3 separate regions of the Homo sapiens genome follow, and regions 2 and 3 are each linked to region 1. The links come from fine-mapping of genetic effects on gene expression. A gene starts in region 1. Each other region holds a variant in brackets. All regions are shown on one strand. Distances are between the middles of the regions.

What was found. PIP is the estimated chance that this variant, and not a neighbour inherited with it, causes the effect.
Region 2: its variant is fine-mapped to the expression of BFSP1 in blood mononuclear cells (TOPMed, PIP above 0.99). The same link has a PIP of 0.9 or more in T cells and whole blood.
Region 3: its variant is fine-mapped to the expression of BFSP1 in whole blood (TOPMed, PIP 0.91).

The regions. Positions count from the first base shown.
Region 1 is chr20:17,529,253-17,534,758 of GRCh38, reverse strand. BFSP1 (beaded filament structural protein 1) reads left to right here and starts at 3,380. Exons shown (of 8, transcript NM_001195.5): 1 at 3,380-3,806. The coding sequence starts at 3,430. RefSeq lists enhancers at 1,167-1,226, 3,040-3,579, 3,580-4,120 and silencers at 3,316-3,365, 3,486-3,815, 3,836-3,885.
Region 2 is chr20:17,502,773-17,508,278 of GRCh38, reverse strand. All of the region lies in intron 5 of BFSP1 (beaded filament structural protein 1), which reads left to right. Among named protein-coding and RNA genes, the nearest start is that of BFSP1, 26 kb to the left of the region's middle. RefSeq lists an enhancer at 3,244-3,767. The variant T/A (reference allele first, on the strand shown) is at 2,732.
Region 3 is chr20:17,900,817-17,906,322 of GRCh38, reverse strand. It overlaps the pseudogene RNU6-192P. Among named protein-coding and RNA genes, the nearest start is that of SNORD17, 59 kb to the left of the region's middle. RefSeq lists an enhancer at 2,105-2,164. The variant A/G (reference allele first, on the strand shown) is at 2,083.

The sequences.
Region 1 (5,506 bases):
CATGAGCCACCACACTCGGCCCTATACTGCATTTAGATGTCCTGTCTCTTCAGTCTCCTTTAATCTGGAACATTTTCATAGCTTCTCTTTGTCTTTTATGATATTAACATTTTTATAGAATACCATCCCCCTTCTGTTTTTATTAATAGGATGTTCCTTCTTTGGGATTTATCTGGATGATTCCTTATGGTCAGATATAGGCTACATATTCAGGTTATGCAGGCCAGATAAAAGACGTGTATTTCTCAGACAAACCAAGATACCCTTGAGAGTGAAAGATGGTGCTTGCTATATTTACGCTGAGATAGTGGGTGTAAATGTGTCTTAGGCAAACTGGGATGTGTGGTTACCCTACTTACATAAGTGATTATTCTCATTTTACCAGTCTCCATACTGGGACTAGATAGGTTAAATCACTTACTGAAGTGATGGGACCAGAACTTAACCTCAGATCTTTCTTATTCTAAAACATCCATTTCCTGTCCCTGCCCCCAAACTAGTGCCATTCAACTGTATTTAGAGTAACTCTTCCATAGCTGACCTTTCATCAAGTCCTGTGGAATCTATCTCTACGAACATGTCTCTTGAATTAACAAATTCATTCAGCAATGATTTCTTCCTTATGCATACGATCTCTACTCCTACTGAATGGTCTCCTATCAGTGATATGGTCTTTAGGGCTGTTGACAAATATTGCACACTCCTTCTAAGCACATAGCAGGATTGCATTTCCCAGTGCACCTGAAGTTAGACAATACAACCACAGCATTTTGCTAAGATCTTTATTTTAGAAGTTGTCCAGATTATCTTGTGTTTTCATTAGTCAGTATGGATTCGCCTCCTGCACCCTGAGGGCAGAGACTTGATTTTGTGCAATATTTAACTCTGAGGCTACGCTTTGTGAGGAGATATTTTCTGAGTGTTTATTTCACTGGATTAAATTGAAAGAATTTTTTGTTATGTTTCTAGAATATATTTTTCTCAAATGGTATTGCCATGTGTGGTCGATTGAGTTGTGGGTCCTGATTCTCCACTCCAGCATGATGGGATTATCCACCCACACCCTTGCCAGGGCCTCAGGCTGAGCCCTGCCTCCTCCTTGCTTCCTCTTGACTTTATTTGTGGCCATGTGATTTGCTTTGACCAATGAGATGTCAGCAGACATGATGCAAACAAAGGCCTGGGATGAGCTTGTGTGGCTGGGCTTGCTCTTGTGCTTTTTTCATTGCTAGTTTAGAAGCTTGAGGGACATTGGGAGCAGAGCAGCCCCTGCTGAAAGGAGACCTACAGCTGGAAGACAGCTGAGCTCCCAGCCCCAGGGAATGCAGTGATAAATACTTCTATTTTGTTCTGTAGCAATATTTGACTGATACATGGTATCATAGGGAACAAATGATTTTATAACTCTTGCTATATGTTGGTTTTGCTCTCGTGAGGAAGCCTGAAGTCAATTTACCATGCTATCAGCATGGTATATGTGCACCTACAAAAATATTCATGTGGTTATCCTCAATTTGACCATACAATTACATTTTATGTATTTTTATTTATTATTTTTATTTTTATAAATAAAAGAAATGGGGGTCTCACTATGTTGCCAAGGCTCGTCTTGAACTCCTGGCCTCAAGAGATCCTCCCACTTTGGCCTCCCAAAGTTCTGGATTAGAGGTGTGGTCCACTGCACCTGGCCAAATCTAATTTTAAATGGTTTAAGAAAATAGAACAATAACCATGCCACCAGCACAGTTTAGGGCCTTGCAGAGCTTTATTCCAGACGGAATCTATTATCTTGAGGTAATATTTTGGTGTAATAATAAACTCCACAAAGATCTGTGTAATTTTCTTTCTCTATCTTTGATAACTATGACTTTAATTTGTAGTATAATCACACACAATCCATATAGTTAGTAATTATATGGTACTACTAATCCTTTTAAGAAAACAACCCTTTTGATACTTATTTTTAAAGTTGGAGATATGACAAAATATTTACATTCAGAAACATTCTCATCAAGTGGTATTAATTTCTTTTCTTAAATTTACTTTTAAATTTGTCAAAGTCTAGCTATTAATTATATATATATATTTTAAAAGCTTGTCCTTAAAATCCAACTATTAGTTCCATAATAAAAATTAAAATGGAACATAATGGCACAAAATCCTTTATTATTCTCGAATTGAGGGTTGGCCAATTAATGGCGGATCACTTGAGCCCAGGAGTTTGAGTCCTGCCTGGGCAACATAGCAAGACCCCATCTCATTTTTTATTAAAATTTTTTTGTATTACATTTTATGTTAAAAAAAGAAAAAGAAAAAAGCAATCTTTTTTTCTTTTTCTTTTTTTTTTTTTTTTTGAGACGGAGTCTCACTCTGTTACCCAGGCTGGAGTGCAGTGGGGCGATCTCGGCTCACTGCAGCCTCCGCCTCCCAGGTTCCAGCGATTCTCCTGCCTCAGCCTCCCAGGTAGCTGGGATTACTGGCACACGCCACCACGCCTGGCTAATTTTGGTATTTTTAGTAGAGACGGAGTTTCACCATGTTGGCCAGGCTGGCCTCGAACTCAGGTGATCCGCCCGCCTCGGCCTCCCAAAGTGCTAGGATTACAGGCGTGAACCACCTATTACAGGCCCATGGGTGGGGCTCTATTTGTTTTTTCCATTCAAGAAAGCATGTCAAACTCCATCAGAGCATGGGTGAATTATAAAAACATAACCGTGCATGTCTCCTAAGTTATTGTAGGCTTTTATGCACGGGTATTACTAAGAAATTACTTGCGCCACACCTCACTACTTAATGGAGACATGCCATTTTATTTTGCATCCATGGTTAAGAACCTCTGCTATACAGAAGGGTCCTAAACGTCATGTTATGATTATGAAAAAGAATTGCATGCATAACCGAGCAATTGGAAATAAAAAAGACCAAAAGAAAAAAAAAAGAATTGCTTAAGTAATCAGAAAAAAAAAATGGCATTGTTAAAGAGTTCTACAATTGAGTTTGAATGCAAGAGGAGACAAAGTGACAAGCCCTGGGCTCTTGAGCTAGTCCAAGTTTAAAGAGTTCGCTTGGGGATTCCTTCACAGTCCCCAGTGGAACCAGTGAAAAGAGCGTCATGGCTCCCGTGTCCCCTGACCCTCCATTCAATCAAAAGCAACAGGCCTGAACAATCACGGAACAAAAACCTCATTGCCCAGCGTAACCTTCCAACCCCGGAGCTGTATGGGCCGCTAATCCGCCGCACAAAGCGGGCCGCTGCTCTTTTCTTCTCCCGCGCCCGGGCCCAGCGTGGCGCCCAACTGCTGATCGGCTCTGGAACGTCCCAGCAGCGCGCCGGGGGCCTCCGGTGTTTATTTAGCGGGCTGCGGGCTGCGCCGGGGGCCTCCTGGAGAGCCGGCTCGGCGCCGCCCGCGCGCCCGCGCCAGAGCAGCCATGTACCGGCGCAGCTACGTCTTCCAGACCCGCAAGGAGCAGTACGAGCACGCCGACGAGGCTTCGCGCGCCGCCGAGCCCGAGCGCCCGGCCGACGAGGGCTGGGCTGGGGCAACGAGCCTGGCGGCGCTGCAGGGGCTCGGCGAGCGCGTGGCCGCCCACGTCCAGCGGGCCCGCGCCCTCGAGCAGCGCCATGCCGGGCTCCGGAGGCAGCTGGATGCCTTCCAGCGCCTGGGCGAGCTGGCCGGGCCCGAGGACGCCCTCGCCCGCCAAGTCGAGAGCAACCGCCAGCGCGTCCGGGACCTGGAGGCCGAGCGCGCCCGGCTGGAGCGCCAGGGCACCGAGGCGCAGCGCGCGCTCGACGAGTTCCGAAGCAAGTAAGCGGCGGCCATCGGGGGAAACCGAGGCAGGGCGTGGGCCGTCCCGGCGGCGCGGGGCTGGGAGCACGCTGCTACCATGCAGGGGTGGAGCGCCGTCTCTGGTCCCCTGTCGATCGATGACCTCATCCCTGCACGCAGGTGGCACATTTCCTTAAGCTAAGACTGGCTTCTGTTTTGATGGCACGTCACAGTTTACACGAAGTTGTATCATTTACTTTTCATCTATTTTTAAATTTTGGTATAACTTACATGTTATAAAATGCACAGATTTGAAGTGCATAGTTCAGTGAGTTTTGACAAATGTATATACCCGTGTTACCACGAAAACAAGTGAGATATTTCCACTACCCCTGAAAGTTCCCTCCTCCCCTTTCCCAGTCAGTCCCCTTTGCCCCAGACCGGAGGCACCCATTCTGATTTCTATCACCATAGATTGACTTTGCCTATTCTACAGTTCCACAAAAATAGAATCTTACGGGATGTACTCTATTGTCTGGCTTCTTTTGCTCAGCACATTGGTTTTGAGATGTACCGATGTTATTTAATCCTTACATACTTATCTTTACTGCACCTGTTTTACAGATGAGGCGACTGAGGCTCAGAAAATGTAGGGATTTGGCCAGCAAGGCCCCTCAGCTGGCGAACTGCTGTCCCGGGACTGGAATTTAGGTCCTGGGCATGCTAAGTCTAATTGCCTTCATGGCATAGCAGCTGACACCTGGGAATTATGCTCAGTATGTGTCCTCTAGTGTCTTGATACTCAAAGTGCGGTCCATGGACCAGCAGTATTGGCATCACCCGGGAGTTTGCTAGAAATACAGATTCTTGGGCCCACCCTAGAACTCCAGAATCAGAATCTGCATTTTAACAAGCTCCCCAGGTGATTTTCAGTTTAAAAAGTTAAATGTTGACTAAGCAGCACTGGTCCAGGGCATGGTCTCCCCTCCCACAGATTGAGTAATGTGTTAAAATCACATAGGAGCTGTTAAAAAAAAGATGCAATTTGTCAACATTTTTTCAAGTTATAAATGTGTGTGCTCTTTGACTCAGAAGGCTACTTTGAGGAATGTATTATAGGATGCACTCCAGCAGGTGTGCAATGGCATGCCTCCACCAATACTGCAGCAGGTACACTCCAGCAGGTGTGCAATGGCATGGCTGCAAAGATACTCACTGCAACAGGTACACTCCAGCAGGTGTGCAATGGCATGCCTGCAAAGATACTCACTGCAGCAGGATCTGCAATAAGCCTGGAACCAAATAAATGCCCATTAAAAGGAGACAGGTGCTTCCTCCATGTAATGGAATACTATGCAGTGGAAAAAAGTATGTTATTGTCATGTAGTCTTTTAAAAGGGGAGGAGAGTAGAGTTTTTTTTTTGCTTGCATAAAAAGAATTTCAGGACACACACAAAGACACACACACACAGACACACACACAGGCACATGCCCCAATGACACTGGCTACCTGAGGGAGATAAGTGAGTAGGAACTGAGCAATTGGGAGACAGAGGTGGGAAGGAGACTTTTAACAGAACATCTTTTTATATCTTTAAAAAAATTATTTAACTATGGGCTGGGTGCAGTGGCTCACGCCTGTAATCCCAGCACTTTGGGAGGCCAAGGCAGGCAGAACACTTGAGGTCAGGAGTTCCAGACCAGCCTGGCCAACATTGTGAAACCCTGTGTCTACTTTA
Region 2 (5,506 bases), 26 kb after region 1:
TTCTTGGCTACTTGCCGGCTCATCTTCTTTGTTCCTTCCGGTTCTCTCTCTTTCTCATTACCCTACAGCAGGTCATTCCACAGGGACGCTTGGGTTAAAATACTGCACCTTTGTATGGCTCTCTAACCACATTTCCCAAACCAAAAAGTAAGTTGACATTTGGTTTGACAAGTACACATGGGGACAAGAGAGCAAAACGTGTAAAAATCGGACACTTCAGAAAGCCTGGACCATTTGGATGTTATGTGTTACTCTGTCTAAAAATGTGAAGCCACAACTAGATGTAGCGCTTTTTATTGATTTCCAGTGCCCCCATGTCTGCTCAGGATTTCATTTTGGGACCTTGGAGTTCACATCCTAATTCCCATCCCAGCACGCACCACACAAAACTCACAGTGCAGCAGCTCTCAGGGGCTGCTGGAAAGCAAACCCGGGTCTGTGGTGGTCCCCTGAACTGACGATCGCAGCAGGAGGAACCAAGTAAGGCACTTAAAACTCCTCCTTCTTGTGAGACAAACCCTGGCTCAGGGACCATGTGCCTCATCCTGGTGACTGGGGCCTGTGTGGTTTCTTCTGAGGCTCTGACAGGATAGAATAAGGGTTGTATGTGTTTGTGTACATGGGGTGTGTGTGTGTGATATACATGGTATGTGTGATATATGTGGGATGTGTATGTGAAGTGTGTGTGGTGTGTGTGTGTCATGTGTATGTGTGTGTGCTGTGTATGTGAATAGGGACGTGGATACAAGCCCAGTCGTGGTCCTAGAGACCAGTGTTTTCCAAATGGCTAGTGACAACTCATTTTTGGATGTAAAATGAACTCAGTAGAATTGACTGGCATGTAAAAGGAAGTCAACAAAATGCTAGACTAAAATATAATAAGAAAAACAGAGTGTACAGCAAGTGAAAGGGAGGATTTGTTTTGTGAAGCCCTTGTTTTATCTCTCTATATCCATATGGATATGTTGAAATACACACACACACACACACACACACACACACACACCTACCTATCTGATGTGTATGGCTCGCAATGAGAAATGTGGTTTTTCCTGGGGCGGTGGTGATAAAGTTGAAAACCACTGCCCTAGAGATACTGAGAAAGATGAAGGAGCCCAGCCTAGATGGCAAATTCCAGTTCCAGGACAAAAAGAATGTTCCTCTCTTTATGTACAGGTATTTGTTGAATATCAAAATAAGAAATTTCACAACAGATTAACCTGGTTTCTGAGAACATGAAATGAAACCGCTGGTTGGCCGCCTGTTTCTGTCCTGAGTGGCTGCAGGAGGACTTCCTGGCTTTTCCCTGCTGCCCTCGTCTCTAAAGCAGGGTCTCAAACATCTCTTCTGTGCTGCCTCCTCCACTCCCACCCGTGGCATTCTGATGGAGACCGCTTCTCAGAAAAATGATGGTAAAGGCATAAAATAAAATACAGATAATTTAAAGGAAACCAGGCTGGGTGTGGTGGCTCACGCCTGTAATGCCAGCACTTTGGGAGGGCAAGGTGAGTGGACTGCTCGAGTCCAGGAATTTGAGACCAGCCTGGGCCACATGACGAAACCCCACCTCTACAAAAAATACAAAAATTAGCTGGGCGTGGTGGTGCGTGCCTGTGGTTCCAGCTACTTAGGAAGCTGACATGGGAGGACTGCCTGAGCCTGGAGAGGTTGAGGCTGCAGTGAGCTGAGACTGAGCCACTGCACTCCAGCCTGGGCAACAGAATGAGACCCCGTTTCCAAAAAAAAAAAAAAAGAAACTAATTATATTAAAACAGTTATCAAAATATTACTGAATCATTTTAAATAAAATGACAGATGTGCTTATACTCACTCAGTAACAAGCTATAGCATGTAGCTGATGAAACACGGCTGTGTCCATTTTCTGTTGCTGCCTTGATGAGTCACCACCAGCACCCGTGTCATCGCAGTTGTGTAGGTGGGAAGTCTGGGTGGGTCCTATCGGTTTCTCTGCTCTGGGTCTCAAAAGGTAGAAAGAAAGATGTTGGCCAGCCTGGGCCCTTGTCCAGAGGCTGTTAGGGGAGAATTTGCTTCCAGTCTCATTCAAGTTCTTGGCAGGAGTGAGGACCCTGTTTCTTTGCCGGCTGCTGGCCAGGAGTGGCTGTCAGGGCTGCCCAGGCTCCTTGGCTTCAGGCCCCTCCACGTTCGGAGCCGGCAGCGAACTCTGAACCCTCTTCCTGCGTCTCATCTCAATGACTTGGACTTACACGTTTCTCTGACTTCTGTTTTTAGGGGATAATCTTGAATAAACTCCTTTCCTTAAAAAAGGGTAACTGATTAAGAACTTTAATTATATCTGCAAAGTCCCTTTTTGCCATGTAACATATTCAAGGGTGTAGCACCAAGGGGAAAAGGTCACGGGGGCCAAAATTCTGCCTCCTTAGCTCTGATGAAAACCCAGACGTGGCTGGGTGCGCCCGGGAGCTCCTGACTCAGTGGGTCTGGGGTGTGGCCCGGGATGCTGCATGTCTAGGTGTCCCTGTGATGGTGCTGCGGCTGGTCCAGGAGCCACACTGAGAACCACAGGGTAAGGGCGGGTCCCAGGGAGTGGGCGAATGTTCCACCTGGTCCCCCTGTGTCCCAGGCTTGGGCCTCATTTCAAATGTTTGTGGCTGGGTTTTTGCTGGTTTTAAAGGTTTTAGTGGCTTCCCAATGTAGCAGCTAAGCTAGAGCTGAAGGAAGATGTGGCCGCACACCGCCGGGCAGGGCCCGC[T/A]CTGTGGCCGGAACTCGGTGGAGGGCGGGCCGAGAGAGAGCGTCTGCTAGCACCAGGGCCGTGGCAGCGGGTTCCGCCTATGGTTAGGGCGTCCGAAGCTTCCCGAACTCTCCACAGCAGGGGTCGTCAGGGTGAGGTCCCCGTCCCAGCAGCGGGGGCACCACCTGGGAACTTGTCAGAAATGCAGATTCACAGGCACCCCAGACCACTGACCCAGGAGCTCTGGGGCGGGCCGGTGCGCCTTGTTTAAGCCCTCCACGTGGCTCTGCGGGCTCAGTCTGGGAGACGCTGGGCGGACGATGGGAGAATAGTGCCTGGGCTTGGAGCTGGAAGCTGGAAGCCTCTCCTTCAAATAAGTGCACATATACCCGTAAGAGCCCCGGAGGAAGCACTTCGGACAGGTGGAGAGGAAAGGACAGGTAATTCTAGTTCCCTAAATTGCATGGACTGAGAGTTTCTGTGACAGGGAAGTAAAGAAAGTCACTTTTTAAAATTGCAAAGTGGGAACCGCCCATGTCTCATTTCTCATTAAAGTCACTTAGCACCATCTAGTGGTTTAGTTTGTGTAAGACAGTATGTAATGAGTTTCCTTTTTTTTTTTTTTAAGACAAAACAAAAACAAAAACAAAAACAAAAAAAAAACCTTACACCTAAAGGTGTCTGGGGTCCTAAGGACTGAGGTGAGAGCTCACCCCTCCAGATGGGGCTCGCGTCAGGCTCCTGCCTGTGTCGTGCCCTCAGCGGCTCACAGCCCAGTGGGGAGACAGATATAAACCAGGCAATCTAACGGTCCAGGCAGAAACAGCAGTCACCTGGCTCCGGATAAAGTTCAGGTTGCCACATGGCCCCACCGTTGGAGGAACCCTGGGCCAACCTCTCTTCTCTTCGTCTCCTGACCCCTCCTGCAGTTTCTGGGACCTCCCCTTTGCTCATTCCTTCTCTCCTTTCTGGAAGTCCCTTTCCTTCCTCGGTTCCCAGGACCGGTCCTGCCTCCTCCTGGAAGCCCCTTTCTTCCTCTGAGATGCCCTGGGCGTGCCTCCCCTGCTGGACTGCGGCCTTCTAGAGGAGGGTCCGTGTCTCATTCTCCTCGGCCAGGCTGGTGCTGGGTGGCAGTGGACGCCGTGCCACAGTGGCTCTCGTCACAGGCATCTCCATTCCTGTTGAGCTCCTGAGACAGGAGCTCTTACTGGTTTTCCTGAACACTCTTCCTTCTGATGAAAGGTTTAAATTATGGAGCTGTAAAAACCACATCGGTATAGACATCAGTCCACTTTTATAAACCAAGTCATCACTTCACTGGACTCAGCAGAATCCCGTAGAGCATCTGCGACCAGTACGGAGTTGGAGGGCTCTGGGCCTCATGGTCATGTGGGGGATGGGGGCTGTGGGGGCGCCCAGGACAGGAGCTCCTCCCGCAGTGTTCCAGCAGAGGATCTCCAGCCTTTAAAACATGCAGCCTTCTTCAAACAAACACAAATGCACACCCAAGAAAACACCCCATCCCTCCACCCCCTACCACTACCACAAAAACAACAATCACCACTTCCTGAGACATAAAAAGATTGCACTCCACTTGTAGGGTAGAAAGATCACAGGTGACTTTCCTGGGCTCTCATTTCCCATTCTGTGATGCTTTGTGGTTCTATTTACAGTTTAAAACTTTGCTAAGTGAAAACCTGCAAGGAGAGGTCTCTGCATGGCTCACACTGACTTTCCCATGTCTTCAGAGAGAACAGGCTGGTGTTGGCCTGTTGCTGTGTGGGAATGGGGAGTTTGCAGGGGCCCTGGAGACAGAGTGTGTGTGTGTGCACGCACGTGTGTGCTTGCATATTGTTGCCTGCAGCAGGGAGGAGGCTGAGGTGCAGGGCAAGGGTGGCCTGGTTCTGGGAGGTGTTTCAGACCTTGTTCAGGTAGATTCGAATCCTGCTGTGGTATTTATGGGCAAGCCACTTTGCCAGTGTGCCCCAGTTTCCTCATCTGTAAAGTGGAAATAATGACAGCCCTTCCCTGATAAGGTTGTTGTGAGGTTGATGAGTTGACCCAGCTTAGGACTTATCAGCATGAGCCACTACCCCCGCTCTGGGCTGGGGAACCCACACCCAAAAGGAACGGCCACCCCAGAGCTCTTGGGTCAGTGATCTGGGGTACATTCTCTTCATATGTAATTTTTTCTTTTACTCTTTATTATGGAAGATTTCAAACATAGAAAAGTGAGAGATTATAGGTGCTATGGCTCACGCCTGTAATCCTAGTACTTTGGGAGGCCAAGGTGGGAGGATCACTTCAGCCCAGAAGTTCAAGACCAGCCTAGGCAACATAATTAGACCTTGTCTCTACAAAAAAAAATTTTTTTTTAATTGGCTGGGCATGGTGGCATTCACCTGTGGTCTCAGCTACTGAGGAGACAAAGGTGTGGGGACCACTTGAGCCCAGGATGTGGAGGCTTCAGGGAGTCCTGATGGCAGCACTGCACTCCAGCCTGGGCAATAGAGTGAGACCCTGCCTGTCTCAAAAATTAAAAGTGAGAATAGTCTGTCTCATGAGCCCTCCCGCCCCATCCCTCAACACATGGCCCCTCTATGTTCTCTACAGCCCCACACACTTCCCTCACCATGTAATTCCAACACTTCTTTGAGATTTGGGGCTCAAAGGGGTCTTTTCAATCCCCATATTCCTTGAAAGTGTTTCCTGGAGTGTCTGAACACTCTGGTGTGGGTGAGATGTGGCTGCACCAGGCGTTAGTGTGTCTGACTTGTATTTGCTATTACAGGCGAC
Region 3 (5,506 bases), 370 kb before region 1:
GGACTTTTGGCACACCTTGTGCAGGGGCAGTGGTCAAATAGCAATATCTATCCCTGTGTAGGAATGAAGACGTGAAAGACAGTGTCAGGAGATTGAGGCCACCAGGTGGGTTTCCCCTGGGGTTCTCCCAGCAGCCTCCTGTTGGAGCCCACTCTCCTTCCCCAGGCTCCCTGACAAAGCTGCCGAAGGCTCCTTCTCTGCTCCCTCAGCCCAAGTTATCACCCCTCAACCCACCTTCAGAACTGGCCTCTCAGGAGTCACTTCTCCACTCGGGCCCCATCCTACAGCCCTCTCCAGGCATTAATCTTACTGGCTGGCCCCCTTGGCTCTTTTAACTCTCTGCTGTCTGTGGCCACCAAGCTTCTTACTTCTTTGACCCCCAGAGGACTTCATTCTGACCTCTGCCTGTGCATCTCTGCTCATTCTTCCTTTTCTATTCTTCAAGTTCGACAGCTCTTCACGGTTTTCACCTTGGTCCATTTCTCTTCCCATTCTGTGTGCTCTTCCTATTTTACTGTTTTATTATTTTTACCACAAAGTTTCTTATTTTTTTCTTTATTTTTCTTTTCTTTATTTTTATTTTATTCTTGTCCTTTTTTCTTTTCTGCTATTTTTTTATATTTTTATTTTTGATTCATTTTATTTATTTATTTTTGAGACGGAGTCTTGCCCTGTCTCTCATGCTGGAGTGCAATGGCACGATCTCGGCTCACTGCAACCTCCGCCTCCTGGGTTCAAGCAATTCTCCTTCCTCAGACTCCCGAGTAGCTGGGATTACAGGTGCCTGTCACCACGCCCGGCTAATTTTTTTTTCTTTTTTTTTTTGTATTTTTAGTAGAGACAGGGTTTCACCATGTTGGCCAGGCTGGTCTTGAACTCCTGACCTCAGGTGATCTACCCGCCTCAGCCTCCCAAAGTGCTGTTCTGGGGTTACAGGCGTAAGCCACCGTGCCGGCCAATTCATTTTAAATAAACGTTATTGAGGTATAATTTACATACAATAAAACTCATTCATACATTTTAAGCATTCAGTTGGACAACTTTTGACAAATGCATGCACCTAAACAAGATATAACACCTGTCCATCACCCCAGAAAGTGTTTTAGTCCCCCACTTGCAGTCACCTCAGTCCCAGTTCATCGTTGATCTGCTTTCTGTAACTATAAATTAGTTCTCTTTGTTTAAAAATTTTATATAAATGAATCATATGGTAGGCACTCTTGCATCCAGCTTTTATTTTACACAGTGATTTTAAGACTCATCCATGTTGTTGCATCTATTAGTAATTTCAATCTTTTTATTACTATCCCTTTCTATGAAGAGAACAAATTTTGTTTACCCATTTCCTAGTTGATGGATTACTTGAATTGTTTCCAATTTTTAGCAATCGTGAATAAAGCTGTTACGCACATTTGGATACAAGCCTTTTAAAAAGGCAACCTATTATTCCAATGTAGACTTCCACAAGCTTTTGAGCAATCAAATCCAACAGCATTATGGTGGCCACTAGCTACTTACGCCTATTCACATTTGTGTACAAGTCTTTTTGTGGGCCTATGTTTTTATGGTACTTCAGTAAATACATAACAGTAGAATTGCTGGGTCAAATGGTGGGTGTTTGTTTAGATTTAAAATAAACTCCAGTAGTTCTCCCAAGCAGTTGTACTATTTTATTTTATTTGTATCTTTATTTTTTGAGACAGGGTCTCACTCTATCACCCAGGCTGGAGAGCAGTAGCATGATCACAGCTCACTGCAGTCTCGACCTCCCTGGCTCAGGTGATTCTCCCACTTCAGCCTGCTGGGGTAGTTGGTATTACAGATGCATGCCACCACACCCAGCTAATTTTTTGTATTTTTAGTAGAGATGGGGTTTTGCCACATTGCCCAGGCTGGTCTCAAACTCCTGGGCTCAAGCAGTCTGCCCGTCTTGGCCTCCCAAAGTGCTGGGATTACAGACGTGAGCCACTGCATCCAGCCTGTACTATTTTAAGTTCCTGCCAGTGAGCTAGGAGTTTCAGCTGCCCTACATTCTAACCAATACTGGTATTACACATCTTTTTATTTTCAGCCATGCTTGTG[A/G]GTGTGAGGTAGCATCTTACTGTGGTTTCATTCTGCATCTCCCTGAAGACTACTGAGGGTGAGCATCTCTTCCTGTGCGTGCTGGCCATTTGCATGTCCTTTGTGAAGTGTCTGTTCATGTCTTTTGCTCAGTTTTCACTGTTTGCCTTCCTATTAGTGAGTTGTATGGGTTCTTTATGTATTTGGAATGCAAATCCTTTTTCAGATACAGGTGCTGTGAACATTTTCTCCCAGTCTGTAGTTTGGCTTTTCACAGCAGGAAGTTTTCACCCTGATGAAGTCTGACCCTCTGCCATGGTGGGCCTGGCCTCCAGCCCCCACTCACTCCTTTGGGGTCTCCTTTAACTCATTCTTTTAAAAAAATTTTAAAATAATTTTTATTGATATGGAACTTTTCATGAATTCGTGTGTCATCCTTGCAGGGGCCATGCTAATCTTCTCTGTATTGTTCCAGTTTTATTTATTTATTTAGAGACAGAGTGTCACTCTGTTACCCAGGCTGGAGTACAGTGGCGTGATCTCGGCTCATTGAAACCTGTGCCTCCTGAGTTCCTGCTTCAGCCTCCCGAGTAGCTGGAATTACAGGCATGCACCACCACGCCCGGCTAGTTTTCATAGTTTTAGTAGAAACGGGTTTCATCATGTTGGCCAGACTGGTCTCGAACTCCTGGCCTCAAGTGATCCGCCCACTTCAGCCTCCCAAAGTGCTGGGATTACAGACGTGAGCCACGGTGCCCGGCCTTCATTCCAATTTTATACATGTGCTGCCAAAGACAGCACTTTGACTCCTTTCAATCCTTTGCTTTCCTGCTTTGCATATCAGCTTGCCCAGCTCTTGCACCCAGTCTTGCATAAATCCCTTCTCAGTGCTCAATTTTAAAAAAAGAGAGAGGGCGGACGCTCCTTGGAAAGGAGAGACGATCTTTCAGTCCTTCTCTCACAGTTCTTTCTCTTCCTCCCCATTTGCTCTCTCCTCCCCAGCCCTGCACATCATCTCTTCTTTTCATTCTCTTTACTCCTCCTTTACTTCCTCTCCCCTTCTAAGTCTCATCTATCTTGGGCCAAAAATTAGCTTTTTAAGGTAAAATCAGGTCCCCTTCCCCATAAAGGCTTTTATGCAAAGTGTTCTAACAAAAACGTCTCCAGCTTCAATATTGCCAGAACAAATTCTCAGGGCTAGGCACCTAGAACCTAAATTCTGCCGTACCAGGAACCCCAAATTGCAGTGTTATAGAAATGAAGAGACCACAGACAGGTCAAATTGAGGAGATGGTATTTCTTCTCCTGTAACGCCCTCACCTGTGTGAGCTCCCTCTCCAGCTGTGTACCTCTTGTCAGATGAGACGATGAGAGGCTATGGCAATGCTAATTACTCTCACCTGCATCAGAGCCACTCACCTGGGTAGCTTTTAATTTCCCCCACTCTCTCCCAGAGCTTGGCTCTACCCATTAGACAGTTAGACTCTGGTGGTTTTCAGAGTGTAGTCCCCAGAGCAGCCACATCTGCACCGCCTGGAAACTTGCTAGAAATGCAGTTTCTAATTAGGTCCCACACTTCCACATGCATCAGAACCCCTGGCAGGGACTGTGAGAACAGTCAGAACAAAGATTGCTGGGGCTGGCCACAGAATTCAGTGGGTCTGAAGTGGGGCCTGAGAATGTGCATTTCTAACAGGTTCCCAGGTGACAATGTTGCTGTGGCTCCAGGGGGCCCTCTGAGAAACACCATATTAAAGATTCTGATTCAGTTGGTGTGGGTCAGACGGTCCGGGCATCCCATGTTCCAATGCTCCCCTGTGCTGTGCAGCTGAGGTTGGGAGCTCCTGGTCCATGGTCTGCGTTGCAGCACGGCTAGAGCCGCACATCTGCAGAAGACAAGAAAGACCCTCCTAAAGGGCTTCTTCCTTCATCTAAGTTTTCATCACAGGCAAACTCTGTGTGTCCAGTGTACTTGGGGCTTGTAATTTTCCTCCAAGGACCTGTAGGACCCTCTCCAAGTTTGAGCAGGTCTGGCATCCCAGGGTGCTAAGGCCTGCTGGCAGCTCACGTGCTTGGCCCCAGGTACTCTGGGAGCTGTGAGAGTTCGACCCAGAAAGGTGGATCCCTTGAGAGTTCTGGGCAGGGCCACAGCCCCCTTGGTTGGAAAGCGACGGGTCCCTTTTGGTGCTGGTGAGCTGTAAGCAACAAAGCTGTTGCCAAGGGCCTCTGGAATATGACTGTTTCTGAGGCTGTTACAAAATTATATTAAATTCCCAAATGATGGTATTCATTGTAATATATGCAAGCTTTTTAATGTATCAGCCATGCTTATATCAGGTGTGGTCACCTAAGAGTTTTGATTGTTTTTGCTCTTTTATTGATGCATAATTTGCATATAGTAAAATACACAAATCTTAAGTGGATGCTCAATGAATTTTTACCTATGTATACACTCATGTAACAACCACCAAGATCAGGATAGAGAACATTTCCATCATTCTAGTAAGTTCCTTCAGGCCCTTTCTCACTCAATCCCCATCTCCCACTGCCCTAAACAAGTAGACACTATTCTGACCTCTCTCATCATATGTAGATAAGTTTTGCCTTTTATTTTTTTATTTTTTATTTTTATTTTTTAAAAAGGGGTCTTAGTCCTCTGTGACTCAGGCTGGAGTGCAGTGGTGTGACCATAGCTCAATGCAGCCTTGAACTCCTGGGCTCAAGCGGTGCCCCCGCTCCAGCCTCCCGAGGAACTGGGACTACAGGTGCACACTACCACACCCAGCTAATTTTTAAAAAATTTTTTTGTAGAGATGGGGTCACCCTATGTTGCCCAGGCTGGTCTTAAGTTCCTAGACTCAAGGGATCCTCTGGCCTCAGCCTCTCAAGGTTCTGGGATTACAGGTGTGAGCCACACTGTGCCTGGCTTATTTGATATCTTGTGATCAATATTGTGTTTTTGAGATTCATTCATATTTCACGTAAGAGCAACCCATTCATTTTTCTTGCTGTGCTGTACACCACAATGTATTTATCTATTCTTCTATTGATGGGCATTTGAGTTGTATTTAGTTTTTGGCTGTTATCGATTTAGCAGCAATGTGTATTTTTGTACATGTTTTTTGGTGTGTGTACGCACTCATTTCTTTCAGGGTATATACCCAGGAGTGGAACTGCTTGGTCACATGGTGAGTGTATGTTTAATTTTAGAAGAAACTGCCAAATGGTTCTCCAAAGTGCTTGTACTGGTTTATACTTCCACCAGCAGCATGTAAGAGTTCACTTCCTCCACATCCTCACCAATGCTTGATATTTTCAGAAATTTAATTTTAGCCATTCTAGGGAGTGTATAGTCACAGCATATTGTGGGTCTAATTTGCATTTCCCTGTAACCATTGAGGTTGAGCATCTTTTTTTTTTTTTTGAGACGGAGTCTCGCTCTGTT